Regions from separate parts of the Homo sapiens genome. Here region 2 is linked to region 1. Evidence: fine-mapped expression QTL. A gene starts in region 1. The other region holds a variant in brackets. All regions are shown on one strand. Distances are between the middles of the regions. Region 1 holds the start of H1-10-AS1 (H1-10 antisense RNA 1). Region 2 overlaps HMCES (5-hydroxymethylcytosine binding, ES cell specific).

Region 1 (5,367 bases):
AGAGAGGTCTGCCAGGCCCAGATCAGGGGTAGCAGCAGGCCTGGGCTCCTCTCCAGCAATGCTCCCTCCTCTCCAGTCTATGGCCAGGAGGTCCTGCCTCCACCTGTAGTTTCTGCAATTTCTTACACAGAGGGTAAAACGAGCTCTCCTGCATTCTCACCTAACTCCAGTCACTCACGCTGGTATGAGTATATATCCACTGTTTCAGAAGCTTCCCTGTTTCCACTGCCCTTGGGGGCCTGTTTTGCAGTTGTCCATTTTTAGGGACATCTGTTAGAATAGACCTTGACCTATTGCCCAACTGGACAGACAACTATCCCACATGCTGGATACCAGAATGTCCCAGGGCTGGAGATCCTTCTGCTCCTACTAATTTTCCCAGCAATCCTTTGGGTCCCGTTTGCACTCTAGCTTAACCAATAGGCTCAGAGACAGCAAATACCCTTCTGAGACCACACGTTGGATTGTGGTCAGGAACTCCACTCTCTGGCCACCACACTTCGTCCTGGTCACATCTCACTCTAACCCTCGCTGGAGTCAGAATGACTAAGTTTACAGGCCAGTCTGGTGTGACTTTGTAAGAACTACCTCTCTGGAGGCCAAGTTTAGGTCCCTGACCATTAACTCTGAAAACCCATTAATCCCCCCTCCTCTCCCCTCCCCCATCCCGCTCCCCGCAATGGCCGATGGACCCCCTGTGGGGGCAGATAGATCCATCCCTCCTAAGGGACCGATCCTGTCTATCTCCCTGTCCCAGGTACTTTAAGTTCGTCCCAAGCCAGCAATTCCCACCCCTTGCTGAAGGCCCCTGGCTCCAGGCCTACCCTGGCCAACAGATCTGGGGTATAAGGACCCGAGGGGCCCGCCATCCAACCCCGCGTGCCGAAGGCGCCCATCCCTATTCCACTCAGATTAAACGAGAGAGGCTGAAAGGTTTAAACGCTTTATTGTGCCCAAAAAAAGGCCCATGGAATGAAGGGAAGAGCCGCGCAGCCCTGAGCCCGGAGCGATTGTTTGTCGCGCACCCAAAGGCAAGGAGGGTGGGGAGCTGGGAAAGGATGCGCGGCCTCCGCGTCCCCGCGCGCCTGGGCCCGGCCAACCAGCGACCCCGCCCGGTGGGCAGGCGCGGCCTCGGCCATCGGCGCCTAGGGGCCAGTAACCATGACGACGGCCGTTGCCAAGGCCGAGAGCCAATAGAGGCGTCGCCGGGGCTGTTTCAAAAACCTAAAGCAAACAACGAAAAACGCTACATCGTTGGGGGAGGGGAAAGACTGAGAGGACCCGGGGCCCCTCCCTGAGGCTCAGACCAGGCCTCGCGGCCCCGGCCGGCGTGAGCCGTACAAAATCTACGTCACTTGGGGTAGAAAAACAAAAACACCGAAAAGCCCACGCCGGCCGCTCTGACCGGCCGACACGCTCACTTGCGGCCCTTGGGCACTTTGGGGACGCTGGGCTTGGCCGCCTTCTTCACCTTCTTGCCCCCGGCGGCCGCCGTCTTCTTGGCCTTGCCGCCTTTGTCCTTCTTGGCGCCAGCGCCCTTCTTGTGCGAGCGCTGCTCCGGCTTCTGGCCCCTGGCGGGCTTCTTGTCCGCGCGCCGGGAGCCGGCCGCGCCCGGGGCTGCCTTCTTCGCTTTGTGCGCGGTGGGGGCCGGGGCGGTGGCGGCCGCCGGGGCTCCGCGCCGCTCCCCGCCGCCCTCCAGCTTCTTGCGGTTGAGCTTGAAGGAACCGTTGGCGCCGGTGCCCTTCACCTGCAGAAGCGTGTCGTTCTGCACCAGCGCCTTGATCGAGTACTTGAGGTAGGTGCGCCCATTCTGCTGGTCGAACCACGGAACCTTCTTGGCCTCGGTGTAGATCTTGGCCAGCGACGAGCCGTTGCGCTCGCCCAGCCTACGGATGGTCTCCACCACCAGCTGGCTGTACTTGCCCGGCTGGTTCTTCTTCTTGCTATTCTTCCTCTTCTTAGATGGGGACAACGCCGCCGAGCCGCCAGCCTTGGTCACCTTCTTGGCCATTCCCTCGGCGGTCGTCACTGGCAGGGCCTCCTCGAGCTCCACGGACATGGTAGCAAGAGGATTGGTGGCGGGCGGCGCGCGGAAGCCGGGGGGCCGCGCCGGGAAGAGGAAGGCGAGGGGCCGAGGGGGTGCAGGGGGGCTGGGGGCGCGCGGCGGCTCCAGGCGGGAGCGGCCGCGGCCGGGCCTGGGGCCGGGCGGCAGGGCTGGGGTGGGGGCCGGGCCGGGCCGGAGCGAGGGTTGGGGGGCCCGGAGCCGGGGCCGGACTAGGGGACCGAGTTGGGGGTCAGAGACCGAGTCCGAGCCGGCGGCTGGAGCTGGGGACGTAGACCTAGGCCGAGCCGGAGCGAAGAGAAATCCCGCCGAACGCGAGACACCGCCGCCGCAGCTTCCACTGGCGCCTCTGGAACTCGCTGGGCGTGCGCGCTGCGCTCTGGCGGGAGGGCGCTTCTCTCGGCTTTTTATAGCTTCATGGCGGACCACGTTGAGAACAACAACAGCCTGGTCCGGGGCCAGCGCCAACTTGTGCTTCTTGGAGCCCCTTCTCCGGCCGCTGGCTTCTCGGACCGCGCCTCTCCAGCGCCGCCGCGCCCGCAGCGGGGCGCCCCGGACAGGGCCTGAGCTCCCGGCGCAGTGGAGAGGCGACTTGCGTCCTGGAAGGGCTCAGCAAAGGCGAACGGAGAGGTGCACCCTAGGCTGCGGGAGCGCGAGAGGAGGGGGGCACCTCGTTTGGAGGCCAATAGCGCGGGCCCCAGAGGAGGCCCCACGGCCGGGAGCTTGGCGGCCGGCAACCCAGAGAACGCCACGGGCACCCGAGCCTTGTCCCGGCCCGGGGGGCTCCAGGCCTGCCCGCAAGAGGAGCTTTAATTTGTCCAAACTAACACAGGGCGCGCCCTCACGTGGTCGGCTGGGGCAACGTGAACTGCGCTAGGACATCCTCGGGGGTTTTCCGCCCCATCCAAAGGGGATGGCGGATGGGAGGCACTCTCCAGCTGCACCCCGGGTTCTGGTTGTGCCTCTGGGAGCCTAGGCACAACCCGGGGAATGGAGGACTACGGCAGGACCTCTCTAGGGACACTGCCTCGCCGCTCCCCCCACCCTGTTGCCGCTGATGTTCCCAGGGCCTCATTTTGTAATCCACAAGTAGCTGCCGCCGGTCCCCCCAAAGCCAAATGGGGGCTCCAGGGTGGGACAGGGTGGGCGGGGGTGAGGCTGTGACACCCAGAGGAATTCCTGTGAGAGGATGGGGAAGGGATTCGCTCTTAGTTCCTGGGTGCACCCCTCCCCCTCTCCCGTGCACAGGGAAATGATGGCGGGAACACAGCAAAGGAGACCATGTCCTGGAGAGGGTCCCGGGCCCCACCCTCCCCGGGGGGGCTTGTGCAAGGCTGGCGGCCCGATCTCTGCTGATTCCAGTATTGGGGGTGCAGAGAAGGCACAGGACAGTTTTTGTTGAAGCCGTTGCAGCCTCCACTTGGGGAAGCTGAGGCCAGGGTAAGATGCTCGGGTAGGAGAGGGGATCCCTTTGGGGGTAGGTGATGTAGGGCACAGGAGTGGGGCTGGGGCTGGGGGGTGGCAGGGTTGCAGGCAGGAGACAGTCTCCAGAGGCCCAGCATAGAAAAGCGATGGAGGGGTGAGGGGGGACAGGACGCTGGCGAATTGGGGTTCCCAGAGTGAGAGACAGGAACATTTACAGGTGGACAGAGTAAAAGGCCCTGAAAAGGGGGTGGGTTGGTGCATTTGTGGCCTTGGGCCCAAGCAGGCTTCTCTGGGTGAGGGCTAGCAGCACCTCCCCTCTTCTCCAGCTCACCCCTTTCACACACACACACGCCCCCCATTTTGTCACCCTGTCAAGGGAATAAACCCCAGAGAGGAAGAAATTATGTCTAGGAGGAAACGGTGAGCCTGGATGGGTTTTTTAGGGGGGAGGCTGGCAGGGGCATGGAGCCAGGAAACAGCCTTCGCCCCCCAGAGCACCAGGTACCCTGAGAAAAGTGAGAAGAGAGATTGCAGCCCAGGTCCCTGCAGAGGAGGATGGGCTCCTTTCCCAGGAAGGACTGGCTGAGTGGACTGTCTCCAGGGCACAGGACAACGTTGAGGGCCTGAGGCCTCCACCTTCTTGAAGAAGGACCATGTGAATTTCCTGACAGAGAACGGGGATGGGTTTCTGAAAGCACCACCCAGCTGAGCCTGCCGAAACTGCACAGCTGTTTCCAGGCCAGGCTGGCTGCATGGAGGACGTGAGAGGAACAGCCAGCTGTGTGTGCTGGGCCCACTGATCAGGGTGCTCAGGACCAGGAGCCTTCTGAGGATGTGCAGAGGGGACTCTGGGGAGAGGAACATGGTGGCCACAGCTGGAGTGACCGCAGTGTACAGAGATGGGATGGGAGCAGGAAACCCAAAAGAGCCGGCCCTGGAACCAGGTGGAGGGGAGGCAGCCCGGCCATGACCCAGAGCAGGTGATATGATTTGGATCTGTGTTCCCACCCAAATTTTAGGTTCAGTTTTAATCCTCAGTGTTGGAGGTGGGTCCTGGTGGGAGGTGATCAGATCATGGGAGTGGATTCTAATGGTTTAGCACCATTCCCTCGGTGATGTCCTCATGATGGTGAGCTATCATGAGATCTGGTTGTTTGAAAGCGTGTTGCACCTCCCCTGACTCCCTCTCTTGGTCCCGCCCCTGCCATGTAGGACACCTGCTCCACTTCACCTTTTGCCATGAGTAAAAGCTCCCTGAGGCCTCCCAAGAAGTTGATGCCCTGTGCTTCCTGTACAGCTGCGGAACCGTGAGCCAATTAAACCTCTTATCTTTGTAAATTACCCAGTCTCAGGTAGTTCTTTATAGCTTTGTGAGAATGGACTAATACAAGGGGCTTGAGCTTGGGTCTTTTGAAAAGTTAAAGGGTGAGCAGAAGCGATACCCCTGAAGGAGTCCCAGCCATGGGCAACAGGGCCATCGCTTGGCCTTTTGTGCAGCCACCGCAGGGGGGAGGAGTGGCATGCTGGACATGCCACTCTGGAGCTGGCTGCAGCCACAGGCTGGGCCAGGGACACTCCTGGGTCATCTGTGCTGGAGGAAGGGGATGCTCTAGTGGAGACAAAGGGACAGGGTCACGGAGGAAGGCGGGACCCAGGTGTGGCCTCCTTCATGACATCTGAGGAGAGGAGATTCGAGAGAGGAGGGCTGGGCACCGCAGCCAGTACAGCCACTCACAAAGTAGAGCCGCAGTCCGGGCACTGAGGAGAGCGGCCAGGCTCGCAGCCACGGTGCCCCGGGGGACCTGGCTGGGACTGCAGGGGAGAAGCAGTCAACACAGGGCTGGAGCCCTGTGGGCAGGGCAGTGCTGTCCAGTCCCGGG
Region 2 (5,367 bases), 21 kb before region 1:
ATGTGCAGTTATCTCTTCCTGCCTCCATATAGGTCTCATGTGCAAATTCAGGGGGAGTTAGTGTGAAATGTGGTGGAAATTCAGGCTGTGATATAAGCAAGCTTGTTTTGCATATACTCTAGTCAGTTATTGGTTCCAACCAATTCAGCCAGTTTTGTTATCTTACAAGCGGAGGGAGTTTCACTGTTTCAGCAAGTTATTTTCTTATGTGCTATCCTGTAAGCCCAAGAATTTAGTCATTGGTGTTTTTGTTTGTTTGTTTGTTTTTTAACTCTTTGGGGCAGTTTCAGTAGTCAAGAGAGTTTGCCTCACCCTCAGATAATTCCCTATCAGTGATGGGTGCACCAAAATCTCAGAAATCACCACTAAAGAATTTATTCATGTAACCAGACACCACCTGTTCCCCAGAAACCTATTGAAATAAAACATAAATTAAAAAAGAAAATTCCCAGTCTAGCCAGTCTAGTAACACACAAATGATTTGGTACAAGACAAGATTAATTTATAAAACATCTATCAATTATAATAGCAAATATTAAGCACTTACTACTAGTCAGTTACTCTTTCTAGGAACTTAATGTGTATTAGCTTAATATACATTAATTCTTTTTTTTTTTTTTTTTTTTTTTTTTGAGACAGAGTTTCACTCTTGTTGCCCAGGATGGAGTGCAATGGTGTGGTCTTAGCTCACTGCAACCTCCACCTCCTGGGTTCAAGCAATTCTGCCTCGGCCGCCTGAATAGCCGGGATTACAGGTGCGTGCCACCATGTCTGGCTAATTTTTGTATTTTTAGTAGAGACAGGGTTTCACCATGTTAGCCAGGCTGGTCTCTAACTCCTGACCTCAGGTGATCCGCCTGCCTCAGCACCCCCTAAGTGCTGGGATTACAGGCATGAGCTACTGCGCCTGGACTTGAACTTAATTTTTACACTACAGATAGTTGGATTTTCCTTTTTGATTCAGTCTGACAATCATTCTTTTAATTTGTGTTTAGAACATTTAATTTAATGTAATTATTGATGTGATTGGGTTAAAATCCATTGTTTTGCTAGTTTTCTATTTGTTCCATCAACTCTTTGTTCCTTTTCTCCTGATCTTTCTGTTTTGGGAATAATCTTTTATAATTGCATTTCATCTCTATTATTGGCTTATTATTTTTGCCTCTCAAAAAATGTCTTTAGGCCGGGCGCAGTGGCTTACAACTCTAATCCCAGCACTTTGGGAGGCTAAGGCGGGCGGATCATGAGGTCAGGAGATCAAGACCATCGTGGCTAACAGTAGAGAAACCCTGTCTCTACTAAAAATACAAAAAAAAAATTAGCCTGGTGCAGTGGTGGGTGCCTGTAGTCCCAGCTACTTGGGAGGCTGAGGCAGGAGAATGGTATGAACCCGGGAGGCGGAGCTTGCAGTGAGCCAAGATTGCGCCACTGTGCTCCAGCCTGGGCAACAGAGTGAGACTCCGTCTCAAAAAAAATAATAAATAAATAAATGTTTTTAGTAGTTGCCCTACAGCTTACAGCATACATTTTAAGTTAATAACATTCTGTCTTTATACACTACATTACTATTGAAAATACCTTACAACAGTATTCTCCCAGTTCCTCCTGTCTTTTGGGCTACTGTTATGCATTTTATTTTTACATATACTATAAACTTACAATACATTGCTATTTTACTGTAGATGGTCAATTATGTTTTAGAGTGGTAAAAAATAAGAAAAGTCTTTGTACACGTACCTTCATTTTAGCCATTTCCATGGATCTTCACTTATTTGTATAGATCCAGTTTTCTCTCTGGTATTACAGCCCTTCTGCCTGAAGGACTTTAATTTTTCTTGTAGTGTGGGTCTGCTGGTAATAAATTCTGATTTTTTTTTTGTCTGAAAAAGTATCTATTTCTTTATTTTAAAAAATCATCAGGGCCGGGCACAGTGGCTCATGCCTGTAATCCCAGCACTTCGGGAGGCCGAGGTGGGCGGATCACCAGGTCAGGAAATCGAGACCATCTTGGCTAACACGGTGAAACCCCATCTCTACTAAAAACACACAAAAAATTAGCCGGGCGTGGTGGCGGGCACCTGTAGTCCCAGCTACTTGGGAGGCTGAGGCAGGAGAATGGCATGAACCCAGGAGGCAGAGCTTGCAGTGAACCGAGATGGCGCCACTGCACTCCAGCCTGGGCGACAGAGTGAGACTCCATCTCAAAAAAAAAAAAAAAAAAATTCATGCTTTTTATTGATATATAATTCACATATAATAAAATTCACCCTTTTAAAATGTACAGTGGTTTTTAGTATATTCAAAACCTTGGCCAGGCACAGTGGCTCTAAAATTAACCATGCATGGTGGCTCGTGCCTGTGGTCCCAGCTACTTGGGAGTCTGACGTGGGAAGATCACTTGAGCTTAGGAGGTCGAAGTTGCAGTGAGCCGAGATCACACCACTACACTCCAGCCTAGGTGACACAGTGAGACTCTATCAAAAAAAAAAACAAAAAAAA[C/A]CCCACAAAATGTTGTGCAGCCATCATCACTAATTCCAGAATGCTGTTATCAACCCCAAATAAAACCACACCCATTAGTAGTCACTTTCCATACCTCCCTGTCTTTAACCCCTGGCAACCACTGTCTGGTATTTTTCACCGTATATAAGATTCTGGGTCAGTGGTGTTTTGTTTTCTTTCAGTACTTTAAAAAAATACACTTCATTGTCTCTGGCTCTCATAGTTTTTTTGAGAAGTCTAGTGTATAACTGTCTTTTTTCTTTTGTATGTAATGCATAAATGTGTGCTGCTCTCACCACCTTCCCCTCCACCTCCCTCCACCCCTGCTTTTAAGATTTTCTCTTAGGGCAGCTGTTTGAATACATTGTGTGTATGTGTTTTAGCCTATTCTCTTTGCTGCTTGGATCTGCAGTTTGATATCTTTCATAATTTATGGAAATTTCTTGGCTTTTTCCTCTTCAAATATTTCTTCTGCCCCATTTTCTCTTTCTGGGATTCTAATGACACATGTGTTAGATGATTTAATTGTACCATCGTTCTTGGATATTCTCTCCATTTTTCTTTCTTTTTTTCTTCTCTGTTTCAGTTTAGATACTTTTCACTGACCGTTTTTTTTCTTTTTTTGAGATGAAGTCTCGCTCTGTCACCCAAGCTGGAGTACAGTGGTGCAATCTTGGCTCACTGCAACCCCTACTTCCCAGGTTCAAACAATTCTGCCTCAGCCTCCCAAATAGCTGGGATTACAGGCATGCACCACCATGCCCAGCTAATTTTTTTTGTATTTTTAGTAGAGACGGGGTTTGATAAGGTTGGCCAGGTGGGTCTTGAACGCCTGACCTCAAGTGATCTGCCTGCCTTGGCCTCCCAGAGTATTGGGATTACAGGCATGAGCCTCTGCGCCTGGCCATTATTGACCTATCTTTAAGTTCACTGAGTCTTTCTTATAGTTTCTGTCTCTCTGCTAACGTTCCTTATCTGTTCATATATGTTGTCCACATTTTCCACAAGAGTCTTTGACATTAATTTTACTTACTTCAAGTTCTCTGATAATTTCAGCATCTGGGAAATATAATCTCTTGAATCTGGTTCTGTTAATTTCTATATCTCTTGGTGGTTGATTGCTTTAGCTTTTTTTGTGTGTCTTGTAATTTTTTATTGTTGCCAGAGATGATATGTAGGACAGAGACTGAGATTAATAATATTTATGTCTGGAAATTCTTCTATTAGGCCATTAATATATGGGGTTAAGTCAGTCTTGTCAGGAATTGAACTGGGTTTGGGCTTTGTTCTCATTACAGTGCCTTTGTTTTGTTTTTGTTTTTGTTTTTGAGACAGAGTCTCCCTCTGTTGCCCAGGCTGGAGTGCAGTGGTGCGATCTCGGCTCACTGCAAGCTCCGCCTCAGCCTCCCGAGTAGCTGGGACTACAGGCGCCCGTCACCAGGCCCAGCTAATTTTTTGTATTTTTAGTAGAGACGGGGTTTCACCGTGTTAGCCAGGATGGTCTCGATCTCCTGACCTCGTGATCCGCCTGCCTCGGCCTCCCAAAGTGCTGGGATGACAGGCATGAGCCACCACGACCAGGCTACAGTGCCTTTGTTTGACACAGGCTTTCAAGTGCTCTGGTGTTATCCAGTGTTTAGGGTAAGGATTGACTTTCCAGAGGGTTTCTCAGCAGCCCTCCTCTCTTCAGTTGTTGGATTTTCCTGTGAGCCTGTGCCTTAGACATGGTCTTTCTTGTGCCCTTTTCCCTCTTCCAGAAGTAGACTGCTTCTGCTTGTCACTTAATGTTTGTCGGCTAAACGGGTGGAGGCAGTTCTCCGTTCAGTCTATCTTAAGCAGATGTGGCTCTCTGACTCAGTCTTCCCCAGGGCGTAGGGGGCTTTTTCTTTTTCTCCTTCCCCAGCCTCTGTGGGTCTTTACCTGATTCCTAGGCGTGACAGGGATTATTATTATTACCGTTTCCCTGGCAGCTTAAGACTTTTGCTCCTTAGGGGAAAAGTGATTAGGTGAGGCAGAGGAGCTTGCCTTTAAGGTATTCAACAGTGAGGATGGCTTCCTCCAGGCTCCTGCCCTGTGCCGTCTTTTTCGAGCACTGGCAAAGTCCAAGGAGAAAAGCCTGTGAGCTGGTGCAAACTCCTCTGAGGTTTGCAGCTCCTAGGGATTCTGTACTATCCTGCTAGCCTGTACGCTGCTTGTAGAAATGTGATAATAACATTATCTGAATTCTTAACCTGGTTGTATGAAGGCTTGTGTCTCCCTCCTGATGCTGCCAATAAGCCAGTACTTGTGTCCCATTGCCCCTTGGAGGACCTTGTCTTTTCTTAAATTTCAGGGAAATTGATCGACTTACCTCTCTGATGAGTTTAAGAAAAGTTATAATTTTGCATATTATCCAGCTTTTTTCTTATTGTTAGAATAGAAGTGACGTTCTTTCCAGCTTTCTACATTTTAGTCCTTGAATTGAATTTTGAATGGCAATTAGGAATTGGCATGAAATTCAATTCAATTAAGAAAGGGTGGGAAGGACATTTTGGGCAGAGGAAGGTTGCTTCAGCAAGACACAGGAGCATGAAATTGCATGAGAGCTTCATTTACCAACAGCTGGTTTGGGTTCAAATTAACAATGTAAGTAATAGCTAGAATGGTGGGCCAGTTCACGGAAGGCCTAAATGTCCAGTGAAGGTGTTAAATTCTGAAAGTATTAAGGAGCCATGAATCTATAGCTTCAGTTGGCATTTGCCACCAACCTTCTTTCCTTTGGTGACAGAGGGGTTAATAAGACGTGGGCTGAATTACTTTTAAAATGATTTCCGTGCTCTCGAGTCTGAAGTAGTACCTAACCTGCATGTAGAAGAAGTCTGCTGAGTG

Evidence for each region.
Region 2: its variant is fine-mapped to the expression of H1-10-AS1 in whole blood (TOPMed, PIP above 0.99).

The regions. Positions count from the first base shown.
Region 1 is chr3:129,313,844-129,319,210 of GRCh38, forward strand. It overlaps H1-10-AS1 (H1-10 antisense RNA 1), which reads left to right and starts at 2,428. Exons shown (of 5, transcript NR_026991.1): 1 at 2,428-3,502; 2 at 4,089-4,467; 3 at 4,700-4,794. It overlaps H1-10 (H1.10 linker histone), which reads right to left and starts at 2,443. Exons shown (of 1, transcript NM_006026.4): 1 at 928-2,443. The coding sequence starts at 2,059. The coding sequence ends at 1,418. RefSeq lists silencers at 982-1,271, 1,652-1,781, 2,582-2,921.
Region 2 is chr3:129,292,956-129,298,322 of GRCh38, forward strand. All of the region lies in intron 4 of HMCES (5-hydroxymethylcytosine binding, ES cell specific), which reads left to right. Among named protein-coding and RNA genes, the nearest start is that of HMCES, 17 kb to the left of the region's middle. The variant C/A (reference allele first, on the strand shown) is at 2,500.